Regions from separate parts of the Homo sapiens genome. Here all the other regions are linked to region 1. The links come from fine-mapping of genetic effects on gene expression. A gene starts in region 1. Each other region holds a variant in brackets. All regions are shown on one strand. Distances are between the middles of the regions.

Evidence for each region.
Region 2: its variant is fine-mapped to the expression of SLC12A4 in whole blood (TOPMed, PIP above 0.99).
Region 3: its variant is fine-mapped to the expression of SLC12A4 in whole blood (TOPMed, PIP 0.99).

The regions. Positions count from the first base shown.
Region 1 is chr16:67,962,288-67,973,685 of GRCh38, forward strand. SLC12A4 (solute carrier family 12 member 4) reads right to left here and starts at 6,350. Exons shown (of 24, transcript NM_005072.5): 1 at 6,152-6,350; 2 at 1,178-1,272. The coding sequence starts at 6,266. RefSeq lists silencers at 2,749-2,920, 5,243-5,302, 5,813-6,142, 6,273-6,602 and an enhancer at 3,966-4,484.
Region 2 is chr16:67,996,472-68,007,869 of GRCh38, forward strand. It overlaps DPEP2 (dipeptidase 2), which reads right to left and starts at 3,013. Exons shown (of 11, transcript NM_022355.4): 1 at 2,904-3,013. It also overlaps the pseudogene KARS1P3. RefSeq lists enhancers at 1,436-1,952, 10,115-10,888. The variant A/G (reference allele first, on the strand shown) is at 8,935.
Region 3 is chr16:68,137,109-68,142,108 of GRCh38, forward strand. The region is part of intron 3 of NFATC3 (nuclear factor of activated T cells 3); the gene reads left to right. Among named protein-coding and RNA genes, the nearest start is that of NFATC3, 54 kb to the left of the region's middle. The variant A/G (reference allele first, on the strand shown) is at 1,955.

The DNA of each region.
Region 1 (11,398 bases):
GCGGGGCTGGGCCAAGGCCTTCACCGCAGAACCTTGCTGCTTTCCCAGGTCAGGAGGCCTCCCAGAGCTCAGGTCCCCCAGCCCCACCGGGGTCTAGGCGATGATCCCTGCTCCTGCAGCCTTCTCGAGGCTGTGCTTCTACCTGCCTCCTGCCCACATTTAGCTTTTCCCTCTCTGTCAGCTCCTTTCTGACCTACACACAGGGAGAAGTTGCTTTGGTGTGAGAAAGGAAGACGAGGGCCCTTGGGGGCATGTGGAGATTAAGGAGCCTCGGCCAGATGTGGTGGCTCACAGCAGTAATTCCAGCACTTTGAGAGGCTGAGCAGGAGGATCACTAGAAGTCAGGAGTTCAAGACCAGCCTGGCCAACACGGTGAAACCCCGTCTCTAAAAACACAAAAATTAGCCAGGCATGTGGTGGGCACCTGTAATCCCAGCTACTCGGGAGGCTGAGGCAGGAGAATCGCTGAGCTTGGAAGGCAGAGGTTGCAATGAGCTGAGATCGCGTCACTGCACTCCAGCCTGGGGCGACAGAGTGAGACTCCATCTCAAAATGAAGAAAGAGAAAAAAAAGGCAGATTAAGGAGTCTCCATTACTCAGCCATGCAGTGGCTGAATGCATGGGTCAGAGTTTAGGAGCTTAAACTACGTCTTAAATCCAGATCTCACTGCTCAGCTTGAGTCTGAAGAAGATAAAACTCAAGTACAGAGGCAGATATTTGGGAATCTTTCCAGAGACGTATCCCCTAAAGCTGCAAATGGACCAGGACTCAGGGAACTAGAGAGGGACAGAGCTGGAAGGGTCAACCAAGAAAGACAAGGAAGAATCCATGGGAGAGCGAAGAACCATGGACTTGGAGAAGAACCAGGAGTGGAAGGAAGAGGAGAAATCCTGAGTTGGGAAATCCTAAGCGGGCGTTTCCTTGCTGAGGGGTTGTAAGGAAGTCAGAGGTGAACCACCCTGGAGGTAGCAATGGGGGTGGGATTGTGAGTGGCCTCTGGAAAGGCAGTTTCAGTTGAAAGGGCCAAGGGAACTGCAGCCCGGCTGCCATGAGAACCAGGAACACAAGAGGAGATGAGAGGAAGAGCAAGACAGAGGAGGCCCACGTGTCCAGCCTGCCTGCTTAGCTAAAGCCTCTGTGTGCCAAACCTGTGGCCCAAAATGGCTCCTCAGCTACCTCAAACAGTGCCAGGTTCCTGTCATAGTAGTCAATTCCTCTGGAAGCCTCCAAGGGGGAAAGAAAAGGGCTGCTCTCTCTGTGGTTGCCATGTCCTGTGAAGAGAGAGGGACAATCAGGGCCTGCTTCCTGAGCCCCCCAGCCTGGGCCCCTTCCCAGAAAGCCAGTCCCCAAATCATTTCTGTGGAGCACTTTGGAGCTGCAGTGTCACCAGGTTGCAACTCAGTTTTCACATGGCACCGTGCCAATGCTCTTGAAGGCCCAGGGATAGCCAGAGAGAGGCCAGTGACCAAAACCTGGGACATCATTCCCTCCAGTGAAGGGAATCCAGGTGAGGGCGCAGGCGCCCTAGCACAAGCACGTATGGACACTGAGGGACGGGGCCTGCAGAGGGGCGGGGCCAGCGTTTGACCCGCCCCCAGATCGCCTCCACGCCCCAGTCCCTTTCCCGGTCTTTCCGGAGTACCCAATGTGCAGGATGCCAAGGGTTCGGTGTCCTCAGGGACCGCCCAGGCAGTGCCCTCCAGATAGACGAAGCCGCACACAGCACCTTCGGCTGCCATGGCCCAAAGGTGGCCGGCTGGCTACCCCACCATGCACTGCGCGGGGGGCGTCCTGCAGGGCAGCCCGGGGCATGCCGGGAGGTGGGGCAAGCCCCAGGCCGTGGAGAGCGGAAGTGGATTCCAGGAGCCTTCTAGGGTTGCCTAAGAAAGTCGGACGGGTGGGTGTCGGACTGAGCAGGGAGAAAAATGGGAGCTGGGACTGCTGGCAGGAGCAACACAATGGCCCCCTTGCCCGCAGATCCCGCCGCTTGCCCCAGGCAAACCTCCGCCTACAGCCCTAGGCTGATGAGCCAGTGCCCCAGCTCTGAGAAATCTCGCCAAAAGGAGTGAAATGCTCCTTTTCAATAAGCCTGCCTCAACTCCCAAAGCTCGACTGTTTTTTCTGGCCTCCTATCATTCATTCTTCCCTGTTTTCCAACTCTTGTCCCTTATGAGTCTCGGTGGGTGCCATTCCCAGCTTCCCACCAAGCAGAACGCCAAGCACTCGTTTTCTAGGTGCTGAGTGTTCCCTCCACCCCAGCTACCCTCGCAGCCCCGGCCCTGGCTCAAGGCCTCACAGCAAATGGAAAGCACACATCTTGGTGTTGGATGGCAGCAGTATGTAGTTCTGACATGAGAAGGACTGGCATGGTGTCCAGTGATGGAGATGGCAACAGAACTGTCACCACCAGCCCAGGCTAGTGGTGTGATTGGGCCATGCACTGGCCATGCCCGCCAACCTTTTCTGTTTACATAGGCCACAATTCATTTTTCTTGACTGCAGCTGAGAATGCTGATTGAGGCATCCTCCTGTATCTGATACATCTCTTGCTATCAGCATGAGGCTTCAATTGCTTTCTCTGAGCCAACAACCACTCAGCAGGTGCTGTGCTGTGGATTCTTTATCCCCCAAGGAAACTAACAAATCAAGTGTGCCCATGACAGTTTCTGGGGCAAAGTCAGTTCTTCCTTCCCACAGCATGTGAAAGTGGCACACCTGCTACACCCAGCAACCTGGACTAGCTAAGTGAGCCAAGCAGCTCAGCCCCACATTCACATAGGTCAATGCCAATGGCACAGTGGACAAAGGCAGCCAGAGGTCAAGACAGTCCACCGTGTCATGTTAAAGCCAGGCGGGGTCATGTCGGACACTCTATGATATCTGCTGTACCCTCCATGCTTGTTCAGGATCAGAAGGAGTCCCAAGAAAAATCTGAAAACCCAGTAACACTCTGCCTCTTACATTAATGACATTAATGGCTCTTCAGTGAAAAGCCTTTGAAAATTACTTTTGGATTTTTGTGACAAAAAAAGTGTCTCCCTTTGATAAATCAGGTGCTTCATTTTGTCAGAAAATGCCAGTTATACAGCTCGTCTTACTTCTCTTTCTGCTTTGGCTGCCAGGAATCTCCAAGCTAAATTTACTCTTTAGATAAAGTCACCATCTGTCTCACCTGAGTGCTTGCCCCCTTCCTCTGCATGGTTTTCAATCTTCCTGAGAGTAACAATCACTTGGGGAGACACTTTTGTTGGCTATTTCTTCTGATTCTTTTGTGGAAGTAGGCTGGAAATCAATTATAATTTATTCTAAACTCATGTACTACAGCCTGCCCCATCACTGTTGCCTGGTCTTTCTGGGTAGACTGTATTGCTATCCAGAAAATATACAGCTGAGCACACAGCAGCTCCCCACAAATGCCTGTAAATGGTCCTCTAAGACCTAGCCTATCCCTTGTCCCTTCAGCTATCACTCTAGGATGGCTCGGGGCCCTTCCAAAAGTTGTCTCTAGTTCTCACAGCAACATTCCAGTAGAGAGCATTTACTACCTTTTAGGGACAAGGAGAGTGAAGCTCAAAGATGTTCAGAGGCAAGGTCACCCAGGGAGAAGGCCACATCTGGGTCCCAGGGTCCATCAGAGCCCTGTAGGGGCGGAGCTGCAGGTTCCGTTCCTACTACAGACTCCAGTCCATCTATGCAGCACAATCTTTAAAAATAGAGAAGAGTGCTGCAATTTGGCCAGGGTACGCATACCTAGGCCTCTGGGCATTCAGACTGCGGCAGACTGGCTTGGATTCCCAGACCTTCCCCCGTGTGACCCAGGGAGACATGCTTACTCCCTGTGCGGCCTTGGTTTCCTCTTCTATGAAGTGGAGATTGTAACACTTGTTTTTCCAACTGCCCAGATGCACTAGAAAAGGGACAGTTAGTGCCAGACGCCCAGTGGGCACTCCTCGGAGTTCCCCCAAAGCTCCCAAGGGCTTGTGGGAATGTAAGGGTCTAAGTAGTGCCTGGATGTCTGTACTGCCCTCGGCTTCAGACCTCCTGTTCTGGCCTCAGCCATTCCAAAAATTCCAGGGCAGGTCTGGACATGCCTGCCAGGCTGAAGCTGCTCAGACACCACCTGAGATCCCCAGTAAATCTGAATATGGCCTAGGCCTAGGGACTGCCTGTGAGCTACACAACTGTGTTCCCACCAGCAACTGTGACTGCACCAGTGGCAGGTGGGGATCCAGGTGACCCTCCTGATCCCTGTGTACACGGACATCTGCCTGAGGTGCCCCCTCCAGCACCTCCCTACCCCCTGCCCACAGGCCAAGGTGGGCTGGATGAGCAAGCCCATCTAGGCCTCCCAGAGCAGAGGTGTGGGCACTGAACTGGGGAAGGGGCAGGAGATAGATCTGAGGCTCACTGTGCTTTGTGCCCTCTGACCCTTTGCAGTCCCCACCAAGGATCAAAATCACTCACCGGGGCTCAGGGTGTCCCCCATCCTGTAGACAGCCAAGGTCTGGCTGGAAAGGAGTAAGAGGAGGAGAAAGAGGAAGGGAGGCAGTGGGAGGAGCTGGCCTAGCTTGCGGGGATCTAGCAGGACTCAGCCAATGTAGCTCCAGGTCCCTCCAGTCACCCTGTAGGGGCCAAGGCGTGGCCAAGGTGGGGCCAGCAGCTAGGCTCAGCTCTGCCTGCCCACTGGTCCAGGCTGATCCTGGGGATGCAGCCCAGTCTACCCTCTGGGGAGAGAGGTCCTCCCAGGGTTAGGGAAGCAGGAATGCTGGCTTTTGCTTTGACCACTTGAATCAAGCTAGGGGCAGACAAGGGCATGGAGGCTGGGGCACTCACACAGCTGTCAAGCCTGTAAAACCTCTGCAATGTCCAGCAGCCCATGCCACTGTCCTGTGCTACCTCTGCACATGGCAGTCAAGTGATACACACACATAGCCATCATTCACATTGGGCATGGATCATCTCAGTCGTGTCACCATCACAGATGGATCAGAGGTCCAGACAACGTCACCTGACACGTGTCAACCACACACTTCCTACATATCTCCATCATGATCGGTCACAGATATCACAGGCATTTATCATCAGTCAAATCACCATCCTCATCACTGTCAACCCTGCAGGAAACAGGGGCTGTGAGAATGCCCTGACCTGAACCAGCCTTCACCCTGTGATACCCACAGCTACACACTTGTACAAGCACAATTACACATGCATATGCCACTACGTACACAGACACATGTCCTCAGCCGTGTTCGTGCTCCGAGGGTGGGCCTTAACAAGAACAGCCCTCTGGGGGGCCTCCTGGGGTAGGAGATAGAGAAAGGGCTGTGGAGAGACGCGGGCACCTGGGAGGAAGGAGGAGGGAGATGGGGCTTACCTCTCGGCCCTGGCACCTAAGTTAAAGAGTTAAGGTGCTGGAATCTCAAACCCAGGCTTGACTGCCCCTGGGCAAGTTATATAACCGCCACCCCTCCCTTCACTGCTTCCTAATGAGAGTAACAGTACTTATCCCAAGGGTGATGCTGGAGGATTAAACGAGTTAACTCACTTCAAGTGCCTAGACACGTCCGGCTCCATGTGAGTGCTTCACTGAGGCCCACTGTCCCTACAGATCTACACCGGCGCACTCACGGGCAGTTACCCATAGACCCCCCAGTAGGCACACTCTGGCCAGAGTGCAGGTAGGCGCAGAGAGGCACACGGAGGGGTTTGGGCAGTTGGGGAGCGGATCGTCTCAAAGGCAAAGACGCTGAATCTCAAATGAGGAACCGAGGCGAGAAAAGGATGTGGGATTCACCGAAGTTGAAGGGCCGGGAAGGGCCTGAGATGGGGTCTCGGCCCTGTCCCCAAGCCGGGCGGCCCGGCCGGCTGGCCTCCCTGGGCGGCCACGTCTGCAGCCCCCGCCCGGGGCCCACAGGGGAGGAGCTGGGGTGGAGAAAGCGGCCGGGCGCGGGCGCCGGGGGCCGAGGAAAATCGTGTCTGCGCGCGCAGGGCGGGGAGCCAGTGGCAGCGGCGCGGTCCAAAAAAAGTTGAGTCCGCACCGACGTGTGCGCGCAAGGTCCCGGGATAGGTGCGGGCGCGGGCCCGGGATGGCGGCCCCGGGTGGCAGGCCCCGCTGCCCCGCCACGGCCCCTCAGAACGCGCCCTCACCGTCCGAGTCATCCAGCTCGGCGCGCTCCCCGTAGTCCACCCAACTGAGCCCCTCGAGGTTGTCATAGTCGCCGCGCCTCGGCCCGTCCACTGGCACCACGGTGAAGTGAGGCATCGTGCGGGCTCGGCCCCGCCGCACCCGCCGTCCCAGCCGCCCGCCGCTGTCCCCGCCGCTGTCCCCGCCGCCCCGGGCCGACACGCCCCGCCCGCTCGCATTCCTCCCCGCTGCGCTCACTTCCTCCGCCCGCCCCCCGGGCCGCCCCTCGGGGGCGGAGAGCGGGAGGGGCTCGGCCGGCTCCTCCCAGAGCGGGGGCCCTGGTGGCGGGAAGACCCCTGGGCGGGAGCACTCCTAGTGGCTCCACGGCCTGGGGGCGGGCCCGATTCCTGTGTGACCTCGGGTGAGAGGCCGCCCTCTCTGAGCCCCAGATGCAACATTTGTAAAATGGGGGAAACACACTTCCACCTCGGGGTTGTTTTAGGGCTCCGTGAGATGGGTCGCGGAGTGTCCTGGCTCTGCGCCCTGGGCTTACGAAGCGCTCTGTTACTTAGGGACGGGGCAGGGTAGGCCGGACCGGCCCAGGACTGCAGAAGCCACCTGCCCAGGGCCTCCCACCAACCCCGTATACCTCCTTCCCATTTCCAGCGTCTGCATCCCATTTCTCCGCGACCCTGGGAACCAGACCCCCGCGAAGGTCCCGTCCCAGCCCTGGGCCCTCTAGCTGCAGCCTCTCCTGTTGGAGGCAGCTGGGGATTCTCGGTCCCTCCCCAGGGGCTGCTGCGTCCTCCGCAGGAAGAACACGCACACCCACCCTTCCCCGCCCCGCTTGCCTCGCTTGCCTTTTTGGGACAGTGCACTGGGTGCTGTAGCCAAGTCCCTTCATTTTAACTTTCTCTATCTCGCCTCCTGGGTGTTCCTCTATCCAAGCCGTTTACTTATTTGCTTTTAACGTTTCTTTCACTTTCTTCTCCACTGCTTCAGATTACTTATCTAGCTGGCTTTACTATTTTTTTCTCTATCAGAAAACCCCAGAGCCCATCTTACTTGTCTATCTCCACTCTTCTCCCTCGCGTGGCTCGGGTGGCGTCCTCTGACTACGCCTACTGCCAGCCTCCAGCCCTTGGGGTGGGGGGTACGGAATCAGAGCCGCTGGGCCCCGCAAGACGACCCCCGAGCTTACCACCCTCTGACCCCTCCCCCAGGGCCCCCGCAGCGGGCCCGCCGACCTGACCCCCCCGCCCCTCACGCCACCTTCGGCCGCCCACAGTAGCGGCCTTCCTACTGGACTCCCTGCCCTCGCCCCTGCTCACGTAGAGCCGCCTCTTCTGAAGGAAAATCCTACTAGCTCCGGGCCCATAAGGCCCTGCCCAATGCGGCCGGACCCCGACCTCTGCAGGCGCATCCCTCGCCACCCACCTCGCAGCCTCAGCCCTTCAAATCTCTCTCTCTCACCTGAGACCTATAGTTTCTGGGCATCACCCACTGTTCACTCTGGGGGACATCTACCTAGCCTCTGTCCCTACCCTCACTTATCAAATTCCTGATCCAGGCCTGGCGCGGTGGCTCACGCCGGTAATCCCAACACTTTGGGAGGCTGAGGCGGGAGGATCACCTGAGGTCAGGAGTTTGAGACCAGCGTGGTCAAATAGTGAAACCCCGTCTCTACTAAAAATACAAAAAAATTAGCTGGGCGTGGTGGCGGGTGCTTGTAATCCCAGCTAGTTGGGAGGCTGAGGCAGGAGAATCACTTGAACCCGGGAGGCAGAGGTTTCAGTGAACCGAGATGGCGCCATTGCACTCCAGCAAGAGCGAAACACTGTCTCAAACAGACAAAAAACCTCCAAGGCCGGCCTGGTGGCTCAAGCCTGTAATCCCAGAACTTTGGGAGGCCAAGGCGGGTGGATCGCCTGAGGCTGGGAGTTCGAGACCAGCCTGGCCAGCATGGTGAAACCCCGTCTCTAATAAAAATACAAAAATTAGCTGGGTGTGGTGGCAGGTGCCTGTAATCCCAGCTACTCGGGAGGCTGAGGCAGGAGAATCACTTGAACCACGGAGGCAGAGGTTGCAGTGAGCCGAGATAGTGCCATTGCACTCCAGCCTGGGCAACAGAGCAAGACTCTATCTCAAAAACAAACAAACAAACAAAAAACCTCCTGATCCAGGAGGTCTTGGTGGGGAGCACCACCTCCCCTCAGATTTCTCAGACACATGCCCTGCCACCCCACCCCACCCCTCATCTGGACTGGGCTGCCCTGAGCCTTTCCCTTCATAGTTCCCATTGCAGGCAGAAATGGATTGGTGGAAATCACTGATTAAGATTCTATCTATACTGTGGACTTTGCAAGGGCAGGACCCTGTCGGTCTTGTCACTCTGGTATCCTCAAAACCTGGCTGGCCCCAACACATTTTTTTTTTTTAAGATCTTAGAGGTGTTTGTTTGTTTGTTTTAATTTAGAGAGAGGGTCTTGCTCTGTCACTTTGGGCTGGAGTGCAGTGGTGCAATCACAGCTCACTGCAGCCTCAAACTCCTCAAATGATCCTCTCCCCTCAGCCTCCCAAGTAGCTAAGATGCCACCATGCCCAGCTAATTTTATTTATTCATTTCTCATAGAGACAGGGTCTCACTTTGCTGCACAGGCTGGTCTCAAACTCCTGGGCTCAGCGATCCTCCCACCTTGGCCTCTCCTAAAGTGCTAGGATTACAGTCGTGAGCCACTGCTCCCGGTCCCAACACATTTTTCAAATAAAGAATGAACAGGTGCCCTCTTAGTCTACCTCTTTGCTCTGCAAAGTTTCCGTATAGCTCCCACCCTGGCACTGCACACCCTGCAGCCTCAGGGGTAGGGTGGGGTGTTGTGCCAGGGAGATAGGCCACTAGAGCCCAACTGACAAACACAGAGGGGACGATGGGGAACTCCGAGGCCAGTACACATCTTCTCCAATATCACAGCCATCACAGGAAAAATAACCTCACAGGCCAAACTCAAAAGACATTTGAGGAGCATAGACATTAGGCCGGGCGCGGTGGCTCACGCCTGTAATCCCAGCCCTTTGGAAGGCTGAGGTGGGCAGATCACGAGGTCAGGAGATCGAGACTATCCTGCCTAACACGGTGAAACCCCGTCTCTACTAAAAATATAAAAAAATTAGCTGGGTGTGGTGGCGGGCGCCTGTAGTCCCAGCTACTGGGAAGGCTGAGGCAGGAGAATGGCGTGTACCCGGGAGGTGGAGCTTGCGGTGAGCGGAGATGGCGCCACTGGCACTCCAGCCTGGGCGACAGAGTGAGACTCTGTCTCAAAAAAAAAAAACCATAAATCAGGAATATCTAGAATATCTAGATCGAAAATTCAAAATTCAGTTGGGAGTGGTGGCTCCCACCTATAATCCCAGCACTTTGGGAGGCCGAGGCAGGCAGATCACCTGAGGTCAGGAGTTCGAGACCAGCCTGGTCAACATGGTGAAACCCCATCCCTACTAAAAATACAAAATTTGGATGGGTGTGGTGGCAAGCACCTGTAATCCCAGCTACTTGGGAGGCTGAGGTGGGAGAATTGCTTAAACCTGGGAGGTGGAAGTTGCAGTGAGCTGAGATGGCACCACTGCACTCCAGCCTGGGCAACAGTGCAAGTTGCCTGGGCAACTGCACTCCAGCCTGGGCGACAGAACAAGACTCCATCTCAAAATAATAATAATAAAAATAAATAAATAAAATAAATAAATAAATAAAATAAAACAATTAGCCTGGCGTGGTGGCATGTGCCTGTAGTCCCAGCTATCTAGGAGGCTGAGGCAGGATAATCACTTGAACCCAGGAGATGGAGGTTGCAGTGAGCCAAGATCGGGCCACTGCATTCCAGCCTGGGAGACAGAGCGAGACTCTGTCTGAAAAAGAAAAATTAGCCAGGTGTGGTGGCACATGTCTGTAATTCCAGCTACTCCGGAGGCTGAGGCACAAGAATTGCTTAAACCTGGGAGGCGGAGGTTGCAGTGAGCTGAGATCATGCCACTGTACTCCAGCCTGGGCGACTGAGCAGGACTCCGTCTCAAAAAAAAAAAAAAAAAAAGCAGGCCAGGCACCATGGCTCATGCCTGTAATCCTAGCACTTTGGGAGGTCAAGGTGGTTGGATCACCTGAGGTCAGGAGTTCAAGACCATCCTGACCAACATGGTGAAACCTCGTTTCTACTAAAAATACAAAAATTAGTTGGGCGTGATGGCAGGCACCTGTAATCCCAGCTACTTGGGAGGCTGAGGCAGGAGAATTGCTTGAACCTAGGAGGTGGAGGTTGCAGTGAGTCAAGATCGCACCATTGCACTCCAGCCCGGGCAACAAGAGCAAAACTCCGTCTCAAAAAACAGAAAAAAGCATGTGGTGGTTAACTGCTTAATGGGTATAGGGTGGGTGCCTGGGACTACAGGCACACACTACCATGCCTGGGTCTTACATTTCTGCTTGTTCTTTTTCTTTCATTTTTTTTTAAAGACAGGGTCTCTGGTGGGCGGAGTGGCTCATGCCTGTAATCCCAGCACTTTGGGAGGCCAAGGGGGGAGGATCACCTGAGGTCAGGAGTTTGAGACCAGCCTGGCCAACATGGTGAAACCTCATCTCTACTAAAAATACAAAAATTTGCTGGGTGTGGTGGCGCGTGCCTGTAATCCCAGCTACTTGGGAGACTAAGGCAGGAGAATCACTGGAACCTGGCAGGCGGAGGTTGCAGTGAGCTGAGATCTGGCCATTGCACTCCAGCCTGGGCGACAAGAGCAAGACTCCATCTCAAAGAAAAAAAAAAAAAAAGCATAAGGGGGTTAACTGCTTCATGGGTATAGGGTGGGTGTAGGGTTTCCTGTTAAGATGAAAATGTTTTGGAACTAGATAGAAGTGGTGGCTGCACAACATTGTGAATGTACTAAAGCCACTGAGCTGCTTACTTTAAAATGGTTAATTTTAGCTGGGCGCGGTGGCTCACACCTGTGATCCCAGCACTTTGGGAGGCTGAGGTGGGCGGATCACGAGGTCAGGAGATTGAGACCATCCTGGCTAACATGGTGAAACCCGGTCTCTACTAAAAATACAAAAAATTAGCCGGGCGTGGTGGCAGGCGCCTGTAGTCCCAGCTACTCAGGAGGCTGAGGCAGGAGAATGGCATGAACCCGGGAGGCGGAGTTCACAGCGAGCCGAGATTGCGCCACTGCACTCCAGCCTGGGTGACAGAGCCAGACTCCGTCTCAAAAAAAAAAATAAATAAATA
Region 2 (11,398 bases), 34 kb after region 1:
CCTGGGTTCAAGTGATTCTCCTGCCTCAGCCTCCCAAGTCACTGGAATTACAGGCATGTGCCACCACACCTGGCTAATTTTGTATTTTTTAGTAGAGATGGGGTTTCTCCATTTTGTTCAGGCTGGTCTTGAACTCCTGACCTCAGGTAATCCACCCACCACGGCCTCCCAAAGCGCTGGGATTATAGGTGTGAGCGACCGCACTCGGCCAACTTTTTGCATTTTTTTTTAAGCTTCTCTCCAGAGCCCGAATGTCTGACCTCCTGGGACTTGGGGTACCTGCTAGCTCAGCAGAGGCAGGCTGAGTTGAGCCAGTAAAAGTGAGCACTGTCTCTGTAGGAGATAAGCCAGACAACACAATTTTCCATGATATGCAACTTCAGTCCTCAAATGTGGCCTTGAGGGGACCATACAAAGCGAATCACAGACACACCCACACTTGTAGTTGCAGTGAGCATTATGATAACACCATAGCATTCCAGCCTGGGTGACAGGGCAAGACCCTGTCTGTAAAAAAATAGATAATGATATTATTATTATTATTATTATTATTATTATTATTATTATTATTATTTTCTGAGACAGAGTTTCATTCTTGTTGCCCAGGCTGGAGTGCAATGGTGCAATCTTGGCTCACTGCAATCTCTGCCTCCTGGGTTCAAGTGATTCTCCTGCCTCAGCCTCCCGAGTAGCTGAGATTACGGGCGCATGCCACCACTCCCGGCTAATTTTTGTATTTTTAGTAGAGATGGGGTTTTGCCATGTTGGCCAGGCTGGTCTCGAACTCCTGACCTCAGGTGATCCGCCTGCCTTGACCTCCCAAAGTGCTGGGATTACAGGCATGAGCCACCCCCGACCCTTGGCCAAATTTTTTATTTTTATATTTATTTGTTTATTTATTTTGAGATGGAATCTCGCTCTGTCGCCCAGGCTGGAGTGCAGTGGCACAATCTCGGCTCACTGCAAGCTCCGCCTCCCGGGTTCAGGCCATTCTCCTGCCGCAGCCTCCCGAGTAGCTGGGACTATAGGTGCCCGCCAACACGCCCGGCTAATTTTTTGTATTTTTAGTAGAGACGGGGTTTCACCGTGTTAGCCAGGATGGTCTTGATCTCCCGACCTCGTGATCCACTCACCTTGGCCTCCCAAAGTGCTAGGATTACAGGCATGAGCCACCGCGCCCAGCTCACATTTTTTAAAATGGAAGAAATAGGTATGGCTTTTCTGTAGGGAATGGGCTGGAGGCCAGGAGATCAGGAGGGGTAAGGAATGAAGGGGCCTGTAAGGGGGAGAAGCAGTGGGAACAGGAAGGAGACATTCCTGGGACATGTTTGGAAGTTGAACCCAGGATTTGGAGATGCTTTGAAGCAGGGTTGGTGGGAGACAGTAAGGAGGAATCAGCGGTGACACTTAAGGTCGGCTCTGGAGTCAGGCCCTGAGTTTCCCCGCCTCTGCCTTGTTTCCACTCTGCCCACTGCCAGCATCTAGCTAACTTAGACTGTAGCCTCTGACCCCAAATTATCCCTGTGCTCAGGTCTGTGCCACTGATATTGGCAGCTCCTAATGAGAGGTGACAGCGTGCTGCCAGTCCTCACAGCCCTCGCTCGCTCTCGGGGCCTCCTCTGCCTGGGCTCCCACTTTGGCGGCACTTGAAGAGCTCTTCAGCCCACCGCTGCACTGTAGGAGCCCCTTTCTGGGCTGGCCAAGGCCAGAGCCAGCTCCCTCAGCTTGCAGGGAGGTGTGGAGGGAGAGGCGCGAGTGGGAACCGGGGCTGCGAGCGGCGCTTGCGGGCCAGCTGGAGTTTCGGGTGGGCGTGGGCTTGGCGGGCCCGCACTCGGAGCGGCCCGCGGGCCCTGCTGGCCCCGGGCAATGAGGGGCTTGGCACCCGGGCCAGTGGCTGCGGAGGATGTACTGGGTCCCCCAGCAGTGCCAGCTCACAGGCGCTGCGCTCGACTTCTCACCGGGCCTTAGCTGCCTTCCCGGGGGGGCAGGGCTCGGGACCTGCAGCCCTCCATGCCTGAGCCTCCCACCCCCTCCATGGGCTCCTGTGCGGCCGGAGCCTCCCCGGTGAGCGCCGCCCCCTGCTCCACAGCGCCCAGTCCCATCGACCACCACAGGGCTGAGGAGTGCGGGCGCATGGCGCAGGACTGGCAGGCAGCTCCACCTGCATCCCTGGTGCGGGATCCACTGGGTGAAGCCAGTTGTGCTCCTGAGTCTGGTGGGGACGTGGACAATCTTTACGTCTAGCTCAGGATTGTAAATACACCAGTCGGCACTCAGTATCTAGCTCAAGGTTTGTAAACACACCAATCAGCACCCTGTGTCTAGCTCAGAGTTTGTGAATGCACCAACTGACACTCTGTATCTAGCTGCTCTGGTGGGGCCTTGGAGAACCTTTGTGTCGACACTCTGTATTTAGCTAATCTGGTGGCGACGTGGAGAACCTTTGTGTCTAGCTCAGGGATTGTAAACGCACCAATCAGCACCCTGTCAAAACAGACCACTCGGCTCTACCAATCAGCAGGATGTGGGTGGGGCCAGATAAGAGAATAAAAGCAGGCTGCCTGAGCCCGCAGTGGCTACCTGTTCTGGTCCCCTTCCACACTGTGGAAGCTTTGTTCTTTTGCTCTTTGCAGTAAATCTTGCTACTGTTCACTCTTTGGGTCCATGCTGCTTTTATGAGCTTTAACACTCACCGCGAAGGTCTGCAGCTTCACTCCTGAAGCCAGCGAGACCACAAGCCCACTGGGAGGAACAAACGACTCCAGACGCACTGCCTTAAAAGCTGTAACACTCACCACGAAGGTCTGCAGCTTCACTCCTGAGCCAACAAGACCACAAACCCACCAGAAGGAAGAAACTCCAAACATCCAAACATCAAAAGAAACAAACTCCAGACGCGCTACCTTAAGAGCTGTAACACTCACTGCGAGGGTCTGCAGCTTCATTCTAGAACTCAGTGAGACCAAGAACCCACCAATTCCGGACACACTAAGACAAGATTTCACTAGTGTGTGCTGTTTCCCCTGCAAGGGGGAGGGCACAGAGATGGCTTTGGGTGAGGTTAGGGGGAGGATAGGCCTCCTGGTTGGCTAACACTTGTTTACTTCTGGGGCATGAGTGTTCATGTGAGCCCACGATGCCTGGCCTGTTCCTCTTTTAACAAAGTCTGGTAGGACATGGTGGCTCATGCCTGTAATCCCAGTAATTTGAAGGTCGAGGTGAGAGGATCTCTTGAAGCCGGAGGTTTGAGACCAGTCTAGGCAACATAATGAGAACTCTAAGAAAAAGGAAAAAAAAAAGTGGTGCATGCCTGTGGTTCCAGGTACTTACGAGGCTGAGGTGGGAGGTTCGCCTGAGCCCAGGAGTTTAAGGTTGCAGTGAGAGACGATGGCACCACTGCTCCCTAGCCTGGGCGACAGAGTGAGACCCCATCTCTAACAAAACGAAAACAAGATCCAATGCATCCTCCTGCCTGAAGTTCTTCCGTGGCTTCTCATTGCAGAAATCTACCGAATTTCTTTCTTTGGCTTTCAACTCATGGAGAGTCTGCTCTCACCAGCCTCTCCAGTCTCAGCAAATAGCACAAACTTTCCTGTCCTCCAAAATCTGGCCACCTCAGTGATGCTACGTCCCCCCATAGAGCCTTGGCACAACCTCAGCCTCCAATTGGTAGGGCTGTTGAGGCAAGGCCAGGATAGGAAATCTTGCTACCAGGAAGGAGTAGGTGGGTGAACAGCTTTTCCCTCTACTTCCTCTTCTATGCAGTGTTTGCATAAATCAAGACCTGCAGAGGAGGCAGCAGTAGAAACAGTTTGCTCCAAGGACCAAACTTATTCTGGTGTGCAGCTCACTCGCCCCTACTCATCTCCAGTGTATTTCAAGAGTATGCAGGGAAGGAAAAAGTCAGGCTGAGTTATAGCTGCACAGGCTGCCTCCCATGCTCAGAGCGCAGAGGTGGGGTGCAGCTGGGGCTTACTCAGTATCCAGCAGTGCCCAGATGATGATCATCTGCATCCAAGCCCCTCTGGTCCTGGAGACTCATGCTTCCCTTTGATGTCGCCCTGGATCTGCTCCCATGATGTCTGATACAGACAATTCCCAAGAAACAATAGTCTTCCAAGCCAGAAAGCAGCCTGGCCACTGTAGACAAACATCCTCCAATCACCAAGCTGAAGCCACCCTTCCTGAAACGTCAAATAGCTAACATAACATTTTTCTTCCACAAAAGGAAGTCAATGTTTATGTTTCTAGGAGAAGTGCAATAACCCCAAATGCATCTTTATCTCCTGAATGCATCTAGAACCTTCTGCTCAAGCCTTACCAACCAACCCCTACCCCGCCAGCCTCTCTGTCCAACATTCCTGGGGTGCTTTTTTTTTTTTTTTTTGGAGTGCGAGGGCACGATCTCGGCTCACTGCAACCTCCACCTTCCAGGTTCAAGCGATTCTCCTGCCTCAGCCTCCCAAGTACGTGGGATTACAGGCATGCACCACCAGGCTGGCTAATTTTTGTATTTTTTTTAGTAGAGATGGGGTTTCACCATGTTGATGAGGCTGGATTGTCTCGAACTCCTGACCTCGGGTGATCCACCAGCCTTGGCCTCTGAAAGTGCTGGGATTACAGGCATGAGCCACTGCGCCCGGCCTTTTTTCTTTTCTTTTTTTTTTTTTTTTTGAGACAGGATCTTGCTCTGTTGCCCAGGCTGGAGTGCAGTGGTGCCACTTTGGCTCACTGCAACCTCCGCCTCCCAGGTTCAAGCAATTCTCCAACCTCAGCCTCCCTAGTAGCTGGGGCTACAGGCATGCACCACCATGTCCAGCAAATTTTTGTATTTTTAGTAGAGACGGGATTTCACTACATTGGCCTTGAACTCCCGGCCTCAGGTGATCCACCCGCCTTGGACTCCCAAAGTGCTGGGATTACAGGCCTGAGCCACTGTGCCTGGCCCTGGGTTGCTTTCTGATGGAGACGATTGATGACTTGGGTCCCATGTGTACCATTGAGTTCCTCTTGCAGCTGGGTTCTGCCTGATTTCAGACAGTACAGAGGATCTGGGACAGAAGGCTGCATGCTATCCCATGTCCTTGAGGTAGTGCCATCAGCCGAGGGTGGGGAGGAGGCAGGAGGGCCCTGGGGTGCAGGAGCTGGATCCAGCAAGGCCATTAAAAGTATCTCAGGGGACAAGAGATGGTGGCTCATGCCTGTAATCCTAGCACTTTGGGAGGCCAAGGCATGAGGATTGCTTGAGGCCAGGAGTTCAAGACCAGCCTGGGAAACATGGTGAGACCCCTTCTCTACAAAAAAATTTTTTAAAAAGTAGCTGGTCATGGTGGCACATGTCTGTAGTCTCAGCTACTCAGGAGGCTGAGGTGGGAGAATTGCTTGAGCCCAGAAGTTAGAGGCCACAGTGAGCTATGGTCGCTCCACTGCATTCCAGCCTCTGGGAAAGAGCAAGACCCTGTCTTAAAAATAAAATACCTTTTCCGAAACATTTTTTGTAAGATTAAAAAAAGAGAAAAGAAGGAAGGAAGGAAGGAATAAAGAAAAGAAAAGAAAAAAATTTTAAAAGGTTGGGTATGGTGGCTCACGCCTGTAATCCTAGCACTTTGGGAGACCAAGGCAGGTGAATTGCTTGAGCTCAGGAGTTCGAGAGCAGCCTGGGCAACATGATGAAGCCCCGTCTTTATAAAAAATACAAAAATTAGCCAGGTGTGGCAGTGCACACCTGTAATCCCAGCTGCTTGGGAGGCTGAAGCAGGAGAATCGCTTGAACCCGGGAGGCGGAGGTTGCAGTGAGCTGAGATCGTGCCACTGCACTCCAGCCTGGGCAACAAGAGCGAAACTCTGTCTCAAAAAAAAAAAATTTCCTTTTAGAGACAGGGTCTCACTGTGTTGTTCACTGAAACTTCAAACTCCTGGGCTCAGGCAATCCTCCTGCCTCAGCCTTCCGAGTTGCTGGTGGAATCTGTGAGAAACATGGTGACTCGGTCAATAACCATGCCCCAGGCAGTTGTGGGGGACAGCCTGTATTCCATGGCGGCAACAAAGTTTTCATCTACGGACAGGGCCTCATCATCACCTGCGGCCTTAGCCTGTTCTTCAAAAAGCTGCCACTGCTGCATAGGATCATTTAGATCAGTGTAGGCATTGCTTATCGCTTTCTTTATGACAAATAGCTTAAAGCGCTGGGTCAGACCTTTTGAGTAGTGCCATTTAGCCAAAGGGCTCATTATCTGGGGGTGATCACAGATGAATGTAGAATTGTTGCAAATCACTTCCAGGAACTCCCCCAACAAGCTTGTCAAGGAGCCTGGCTGTGGTCCTAGGTGGAGGGCACGCAATAGCATTTGCACGCAGATATTATCAAGAATTTTGCCAATTGCTTCAGTTTCAAATAGGTTATTTTCTGGCAGCTTCACCCCCAGGGCTTTCTCAAGCTCTTCTATCATGCTGATTCTCCGGAAGGGTAGGGTGAAGTCAATATTGCAGGCTTATCCCTCTGGGACATCTGGGTAGTAGGTGACCTTGTAACTACCTGTATTATGCTTCACCATCCCTGGAACCATCTTCCCCGTGATTTCCGTGAGATTGTGATAGTCTAGGCCATGTAGAACTCAGGGGTGCTGAACTCAGGATTTTACGTCAAATCAATTCCTTCATTCCAGAACTGGAATGCAATTTCATAAACCTGGTCAATGCCACCAACCACTAGCATCTTATGGTAGAGTTCTAGAGTAGTTCATGTGCAGCTTGTTGTGATAAGTGATGAAAGGCTTGGTCATAGCTCCCCTGGGATGACGTTCATTCATGGGAGTTTCAAGCTCTAGGAATCCCAGCTCATCCAAGAAACTTTTTTTTTTTTTTTGAGATGGAGTTTTCTTGTTGCTCAGGCTGGAGTATAGTGGTGCAATCTTGGCTTACTGCAACCTCCACCTCCTGGGTTCAAGTAATTCTGCTTCAGCCTCCTGAGTAGCTAGGATTATAGGCACCTGCCACCACGCCCATCTAATTTTTGTATTTTTAGTAGAGGTGGGGTTTTACCATGTCGTCCAGACTGGTCTCGAACTCCTGACCTCAGGCAATCTGCCTGCCTTGGCCTCCCAAAGTGCTGGGATTACAGGCGTGAGCCACTGCACCTGGCCTAAGAAACTTATTATACATGTGATGATCTTACAGCAGATGATAAATTTCTGCCTCATTCATTCAGGATCAAGTCCAAGTATCTCTGACCATACCTTATTTCCTTGTCTTTGAGGCCAAAGTGAAGATGAGGTAACATATACAAGCAAGGCCACAGCAGTGTGATCTCATAGGGAATGAAGCTCAGCTCATCCTTCTTGGTTTTTCCCAGGATTCCTCTGAATTCCAATTATGTTTCCCCAACGCAGTTTGTTATTAATATGAATAAATTATTCTTCCTGAAATTATAATTCCTGAAATTGGCCATGACTTGCAACTTGACCCCCTCTGCTCAAAGATCATAGAAGTTCATGGCTGGGCACTGTGTCTCACGCCTATAATCCCAGCACTTTGGGAGGCCAAGGCAGGCAGGCAGATCACCTGAGGTTGGGAGTTCGAGATCAGCCTGACCAACATGGAGAAACCTCACCTCTACTAAAAATACAAAATTAGCCGGGCGTGGTGGCGCACGCCTGTAATCCCAGCTACTAGGGAGGCTGAGGCAGGAGAATTGCTTAAACCTAGGGAGGAGGAGGTTGCAGTGAGCTGAGATTGTGCCATTGCATTCCAGCCTGGGCAACAATAGTGAAATTCCATCTCAAAAAAAAAAAAAAAAAGATCATAGAAGTTCAGCTTTCCTCCAAAAGCTTTTTTGGCATGGATCCTATCTGTCACGTTTAAGGTGATATCAGTCAGGAGATCCCCAGTTTGCAGGTGACAATATTCTGGGATGAAGTCAGTGAGGGAGATGTCTACATGGATCTCGTTGGGGTATGGGTCTTTCCCATTGACCTACCTGACTGCAAATCTTTTTTTTTTTTTTTTTTTTTGAGACAGAGTCTCGCTCTGTTGCCCAGGCTGGAGTGCAGTGGCTCAATCTCAGCTCACTGCAACCTCCACCTCCCAGATTCAAGCGATTCTCCTACCTCAGCCTCCCAAGTAGCTGGAATTACAGGCATGTGCCACCATGCCCAGCTAATTTTTGTATTTTTAGTAGAGATGGGGTTTCATCATGTTGGCCAGGCTGGCCTCGAACCCCTGACTTCAAGTGATCTGCCTGCCTCAGCCTCCCAAAGTGCTAGGATTACAGGAGTGAACCACCGGGCCTGGCCTTGGCTGTGGATCTTGTAGTACTGATTTGGGTCCAGGCTCTCCTCCTCAGGACCCACACCATTGTCAGTGGTATGGTTGGTGGCAGCAGCAGTGACCTGGGCTTAGCTGTTTCTCACTGAGCTCTTACTGCTTGGCTGCCTTCTCTGCCACTTTCTTCTCGGCTTTCAGGTATCTCTTCGGCTTGTTCTTGCTCAGTTTTGACTCACCACCATCCACTTTAACCTTGGCCCCTTGTACTGCAGTCATCTTCCCAGAGGGCCTGGACCCAAAATTGTGTTTTTTTTCTTTTTCTTTTTTTTTTGAGATGAAGTCTTGCTCTGTTGCTCAGGCTGGAGTGCAGTGGCGCAATCTCGGCTCGCTGCAACTTCTGCCTCCAGGGTTCAAGGGATTCTCATACCTCATCCTCCAGAGTAACCAGGAATACAGGCACCCACCACCACTCCCAGCTAAATATTCACATTTTTAGTAGCGATGGGGTTTTGTCATGTTGTCCAGGCTGGTCTCGAACTCCGGGCCTCAAGTGATCCTCCCACATCAGCCTCCCAAAGTACTGGAATATAGGCATGAGCCGCTGTGCCTGGCCCTGTTTTTTGTTTTTTTCACGTGGCCGTGTAGTTAAGGAACCAGCCTTATCGTGTGGGT[A/G]AGAAAATTGAGCAGCTGGTCAGATGAGGGGTTCCTTCAATCCCTCCACTTCCAGCTGCTGCCTCTAGGAAAGGCCTCAAATTCCTTACCTCAGCTTCCTGGGATTACAGGCGCACGCCACCATGCCTGGCTAATTTTTTTATTTTTAGTAGAGACAGGGGTTTCTCCATGTTGGCCAGGCTGGTCTCAAACTCATGACCTCAAGGGATCTGCCCACCTCAGTCTCCCAGAGTGCTAGGATTACAGGCGTGAGCCACTGTGCCCAGCCTCAAATTCCTTACATCTATCAGTTTGTCCGGGCATCATTTCCTGATCACCCACTGGTGCTGGCCATTTGCTGGGGTGTGCAGTGAGGTGGCTGGATAAGTCTCCAGCTATCACATGTGCTGGCATAAGCACATGGGGGTGGAGGGTGGGCTCTGTAGAGGCCCCCAAGATCCAGGAGCCAGTGCTGACCAAACATCTAGACAACATGTGTGATTTCACATTTAACCTCAAATTCAGACTTGCTGTCTCTTGCTTAACCTTGTCTGCTGATCTCCGAGGGCTATCAGACCTGTTTCTGCAAAAACACAGTGAAGTCACAGCACACCCTGCCCCGGAGCTCTCTAAGCTTCCTGTTTTTATGCAGAAAGCCTGCCCTCCTGTGAAGCTGACCATGTGAGATCTCACTGACTCCGCATCTGGGTGAATCTGAGAAGCTTAGTTAAAAACAACAACACAAAACTTTTTTTTTGAAACTGTATCTCCCTCTGTGGCCTAGGCTGGAGTGCAGTGGTGCCGTCATGGCTCACTGTAGCCTCAAATTCGGGGCTCAGGTGATCCTCTCACCTCAGCTTCCCGAGTAGCAGGGACTACAGGGTGGTGCCACCACACCCAGCTAATTTTTTTTTTTTTTTTGGTAGAGATGGGATTTCACCATGTTGCCAGGCTGGTCTCAAACCCCTGGTCTCAAGTGATCCTCCCACCTTAGCCTCCCACAGTGTTGGGATTACAGGCATGAGCCACTGTGCCCAGACCAAAAAACTTTTTATAGGAAAAATTGCAAATACATGAGAAAGGAGAGAGAAAAGTGTATTAACTCCCATGTAGCCATCACCCAGTTTCAAAGATTACCAACTGATGGCTCATCTTATTTCATTTATGCTCTCACTCACCTCTTTCTACAGATTATTTTAAAGCAAATCATAGACATCTATTTCATCCATTTTTAAGTATGCCTCTCTAAAAGGTAAGGGCTCTTTTTAGGCTGGGCACGTGGCTCTTGCCTGAAATCACAGCACTTTGGAAGCTTGAGGTGGGTGGATCACCTGAGGTCAGGAGTTGGAGACCAGCCTGGCTAACATAGCGAACCCCATCTCTGCTAAAAATACAAAAATTAGCTGGTTGTCGTGGAGGACACCTATAATCCCAGCTACTCAGGAGTCTGAGACAGGAGAACTGCTTGAACCCAGGAGGCAGAGATTGCAGTGAGCTGAGATCATGCCACTGTACTCCAGCCTGGGCAGCAGAGAAAGACTCAGTCTCTAAATAAATAAATAAATAAATGGTAATGGCTGTTTTTAAAAGACAACTATAAGCCAGGTGCACTGGGCCATTCCTGTAGTCCTACTAGCTATTTGGGAGGCTGAAACAGGAGGATTGCTTGAGCCCAGGAGTTTGAGGCCAGCCTGGGCAGCATACTAAAACCCTGTTTCTGAAAAATAAAATAAAATAAATAAATATATAAATAAATGGCAATTACCATACCATTATGACCCTTATAAAAGTTAACAGTACTTTTCTTTTAAAATTTGTAGAGACAGGGTCTTTTTTTTTTGAGACAGAGTCTCCCTCTGTTGCCCAGGCTGGAGCGCAGTGGGGTGATGTCGGCTCACTGCAAACTCCGCCTCCTGCGTTCACGCCATTCTCCTGCCTCGCCTTCCGAGTAGCTGGGACTACAGGCACCCGCCACCATGCCCAGCTAATTTTTTTGTATTTTCAGTAGAGACGGGGTTTCACCATGTTAGCCAGGATGGTCTCGATCTCCTAACCTCGTGATCCACCCGCCTCGGCCTCCCAAAGTGCTGGGATTACAGGCATGAGCCACCGCGCCTGGCCGAGACAGGGTCCTGTTTTATTCCCCAGGCTGGTGACGAACTCCTGGGCTCAAGCAGTCCTCCCTCTTTGGCCTCCCAAAGTGCTGTGATTACAGGCATGAGCCACCACACCCAGCCACTTTTTTTTTTTTTTTTGAGATGGAGTCTCGCTCTGTCGCCCAGGTTGGAGTGCAGTGGCGCCATCTCGGCTCACTGCAAGCTCCGCCTCTCGGGTTTATGCCATTCTCCTGCCTCAGCCTCCCGAGTAGCTGGGACTACAGGTGTCTGCCACCACGCCTGGCTAATTTTTTGTATTTTTAGTAGAGATGGGGTTTCACCATGTTAGCCAGGATGGTCTCAATCTCCTGACCTTGTGATCCACCCGC
Region 3 (5,000 bases), 170 kb after region 1:
ATTAACTTTTTCGCTTTATAAGTTGTGAATTTTAAAAAAATCTTTTGTCTTTTGTAGTAACAGTTTAAAACACAGACACGTTGTGCAGCTGTACAAAGATATTTTATTTCTTTATATCCTTATTCCATAAACATTTTTCTATGTTCAAATTTTTTATTTTTTATTTTTATTTACTTTTAAAACTTTTTTGTTTAAAATGCTGACACAAACACACACATTAGCCCAGGCCTTCACAGAGTCAGGAACATCAAGATGTCACTAGGCAATAGGACTTTTTCAGCTCTGTTGTTACCTGTGGGACCACCATTATATACGGTCTGTCATTTACCGAACCACTGTTATGTAGCTCATGACTGTACATTTTACAGGTGATCTGAGGTTATGTATGTTGTAATTGGCAGAGAGGTCTTAAGCCCAGGTCTTTTGACTGTCGTTTCTCTTTCTGTTTTACCATATTACTTCTTACACTGTAATTATCTCATAATTTCTTAGTATATTTCATTTTCCTTCTTTTTTTTTTTTTTTGAAACAGTCTTGCTCAGTCACCCAGGCCGGAGTGCAGTGGCTCGATCTCCGCTCACTGCAAGCTCCGCCTCCTGGGTTCACGCCATTCTCCTGCCTCAGCCTCCCGAGTAGCTGGGACTACAGGTGCCCGCCACCACGCCCAGCTAATTTTTTTGTATTTTTTTAGTAGAGATGGGGTTTCACCGTGTTAGCCAGGATGGTCACGATCTTCTGACCTCGTGATCCGCCCTCCTCGGTCGGCCTCCCAAAGTGCTGGGATTACAGGCGTGAGCCACCGTGCCCGGCCGTATGTTTCATTTTCTAAAACACTTTCACGTTATCTCATTTAATTCTCCAAATAAACTCTTTTAGAAAGCCTAGTCTTTGACTTAAAGTCAGATACTCTTTCTCTTACTTTAAAAAAAAATTTTTTTTTCTTTGAGACAGAGTCTCGTGCTGTTGCCCGGGCTAGAGTGCAGTGGCCCACATCTCAGTTCACTGCAACCCCTGCCTGCTGGGATCTAGTGATTCTCCTGCCTCAACCTCCCAAGTAGCTAGGATTACAGGCACCCACCAACACACCCACCCAGTTAATTTTTGTATTTTTAGTAGAGATGGGGTTTCGTCATGTTGGCCAGGCTAGTCTCGAACTCCTGACCTCAAGTAATGCACCACCTCAGCCTCCCAAAGTGCTGGGATTACAGGTGTAAGCCACCGTGCCTGGCCCCTGATAAAAATCTTAATGCTTGTTTACTATTATTATAGTTCAAGCTCTCCTTCCTTGGATTAATCATGGTAGCCTAACTACTGTAACTAATAATCCCCAATTCTCAGTGGTTTAAGACCAAAAAAATTTTTTAAAAGTTTATTTTGCATTTTCTTTCAAATTGTTGCTCAGGAATCCAAGATACGTTCATCTTTTGATGTCGTCTTTGATGCACAGCTTCTACTGTCCATGGGAAAGAAGAAGGTGTATGGAAAGCACTCAAGATACTTAACTACATTAACCTGGAAATTACTATCAATCATCACCACTTACAATTTTTTGGCTACAAGTAGTCACATGGCCCTACTTACATGCAGAAGTACTGGGAAAAGTAGTCCCTGGCTGGGCAGCCTTTCCTCATCAAAACTCTGTATTCTGTAGTATAATATAGAACTCTATACTTAAATCTTTGGTGGTTAGTGTGCCTTCTATGCCACATGCTCCACACAGGAATAAATCATGGCTAAGTCACTAATACGGGCTCTAGAGCCAGACTGTTTTGGTTGAATCCTGGATTTTACTGTATCCTTGACCAAGTAACTTAACCTTTCTTTCTAGACCTTTTATTTAATCATTCATTGCTTAATTTATTCACCTATCTATCCATTTACTTATTCGATATGTATTTTTTGATTGCTCACTACGTTATAGACAGTATTGTAGGTGCTAGGGATGCAGAGATGA[A/G]CAAGAGAGACAAAACTCCAGTCCTCAAGGGCCTTTCTCACTTTATACTGAGAGAGACAATGAGTAAATAAACAAAACATTAGAATATAGTAAGTGCTATATTGGAAATTAGTATTGATGCGATAGAGGTTAATTATGAAGAGAACTTTACCTTGGGATTTTTTCTTTATAAAATGAGAATAATATATAATATCATCTACCTAAGAGCTGTTGTGAGGAGTAAATGAAACATTGTGAGGAACATGGCATGGTACCTTGCACATTGTAAATGCTCAGTAAAAGTTAGCTAGTATCATTACTTAGGTTTCTTTGAACAGTTTGACCAACACTTCAACACTGATGAAGAGTATGTAGCAGAATAAGATATCTACATTGGCATCCTAGAATTAAGCTAGGTTTGTTACTGACATTTTAAGGAGTTGTGAATTAATGGGCTAGTGATATGTGAAAATGGAAAGTAGAAGGGTACTTAAACATCAGTTATAATGATCTTCCTGTTATTCTGCAAAGGAGAATTTCAAAAGAGCTAAGAAATTTCTGAAATACATATTTTTTGAAATGATGAGGGAATGCAAGCTGTGCTGCTGTTGGAAAATACCACCTACCTTGTAGCCAACTGACAAATTAACTTTTTCTTTTCTTCAAAATAAGTTATCTGATTCATTAATGTGGTCACCAAATAATACATTCAAAGCAGTTTGCTAATGTAGCTGGGGGTTCACTGAGGGAAATCAGACATGTTGACTACTCCCATGAACTTTATTGTCCATTGAGACTTGCAAATAAGGTAGTACCAATAAAGTATGATAAATGTTTAATGGAGGAAATTCAGATCTTTGTGAGAGCAAATACAGACCTGAAATTTGATGGAGTTGAATCAGGTACTTATTTTTTATTTCCACAAGAAAGAAGAGGGATTTTTATTTTTAAATTTTTATTATTATTATTTTTTGAGACAGAGTCTCATTCTGTCACCCAGGCTGGAGTACAGTCGTGCAATCTTGGCTCACTGCAACCTCTGCCTCCCAGGTTTAAGCAATTCTCATGCCTCAGCCTCCCAAGTAGTTGGGACTACAAGGCTCATGCCACCACGCCTGGCTAGTTTTTTTGTATTTTTAGTAGAGACAGGGTTTCACCATGGTGGTCCGGCTGGTCTCGGAACTCCTGGCCTCAGGTGACCCGCCCACGTTGGGATTACTGGCATGAGCCACTGCGCCTGGCCAGAAAGGGGACTTCTTATTTGAAGATAGTGTCTAGCTAATTAATAAGCAGACATCTAGGGAAAAGGTAGATACTAAGGAGGGAAAAGTATTAAGTAGAGGGAAGGGTTTAGAGCTGCACTGTCCAAAAGTGGAATCCAGAAGCCACTAGCTACACGTGGATATTTCAATTTAAATTAAACTGAAATTAAAAATTCAGTTATTCAGTTGCATTGACAACATTCCAAGGTTTAGTAGCCACATGTGGATACTGACTATATTTTCTTTTCAACAGATGATGTCAGAGCAACTGGATATCCGTAGGCAAGAAAATAAGCCTTGACATAAACCTTATATCTTATAAAATTAATACAAAATGATCATGGATTTTTTTTTTTAAATTGGAGATATTTTACCCAAAAGTCTGTTGAAATAAAAAAAAGGAGTATTTTAGTGACTGCAGAAAGTTATCTTGGACAGTGCTGGTTTAGAAGCCCATAAGACAGAGAGACTATAGTATGTTAATGAATTATTTATATATTTTATTTCAGTAGCTTTTGGGGTACAAGTGGTTTTTTGTTAAATGGATGAATTGTGTAGTGGTGAAGTCTGAGATTTCAGTGCACCTCTCACCCAAGTAGTGTACATTGTACCTAATATGTAGTTTTCTGTCCTTCACCCCCTCCTATCCTACCCTCTTCTGAGTCTACAATATCCATTATACCACTCTTTATGCCTTTGTGTACCCATAGCTTTGCTCCCACTTATAAGTGAAAACATACTGACTTTCCAGTGGTATTTGGTTTTCCATTCCTGAGTTACTTCACTTTGAATAATGGCCTTCAGTACCATCCAAGTTGCTGCAAAAGACATTATCTCATTTTTTTTATGGCTGAGTAGCATTCCGTGGTGTAGATATACCACATTTTCTTCATCTACTCATGGCTGATGGGCATTTAGGTTGGTTCCATGTCTTTGCAGTTGTTAATTGTGCTGTGAATAATGTATGTATGCAGGTGTCTTTTTGACATAATGACTTCTTTTCCTTTGTATAGATACCTGGTAGTGGGATGGTCGGATTGAATGGTAGATCTACTTTTAGTTTTTTGAGAAATCTCCATACTGTTTTCCATAATTGTTTTAATTTATAATTTACATTCCCATCAGCAGTGGACAAGTGTTCCCTTTTCATCACATCGATGCCAACATCTATTGTTTTCTTGGCTTTTTAATAACGGCCATTCTGGCTGGAGGAAGGCGGTATCTCATTGTGGTTTTAATTTGCATTTACCTGATGGTTAGTGATGTTGAGCATTTTTTTCATACGTTTGTGGGCCATTTGTATTTCTTCTTTTGAGAAGTGTCTGTTCATGTCATTTGCCTACTTTTTGATGGGATTATTTGTTTTTTTCTTGCTGATTTGAGTTCCTTGTAGATTCTGGGTATTAGTCCTTTATTGGATGTATAGTTTGCTAATATTTTCTCCCATTCTGTGGGTTGTCTGTTTATTGCGATGATTATTTCTTCCACAGTGCAGAATCTTTTTAGTTTAATTAGGCCCCATTTATTTATTTTTGGTTTTGTTACATTTGTTTTTGGGGTCTTAATCATAAATTCTTTGCCTAGGGTGATGTCCAGAAGTTTTTCCTAGGTTTTCCTGTAGGATTTTTATGGTTTCAGGTCTTTTAAGTCTTTAATCCATCTTGAGTTGATTTTTATATGTGGTGAGAGACAGGGATCCAGTTTCATTCTTCTACGTGTGGCTGTCCTGTTTTCCCAGAACCATTTATTGAATAGGGTATCCTTTTTTCAATTTATGTTTTTGTATGCTTTGTCAAAGATCAGCT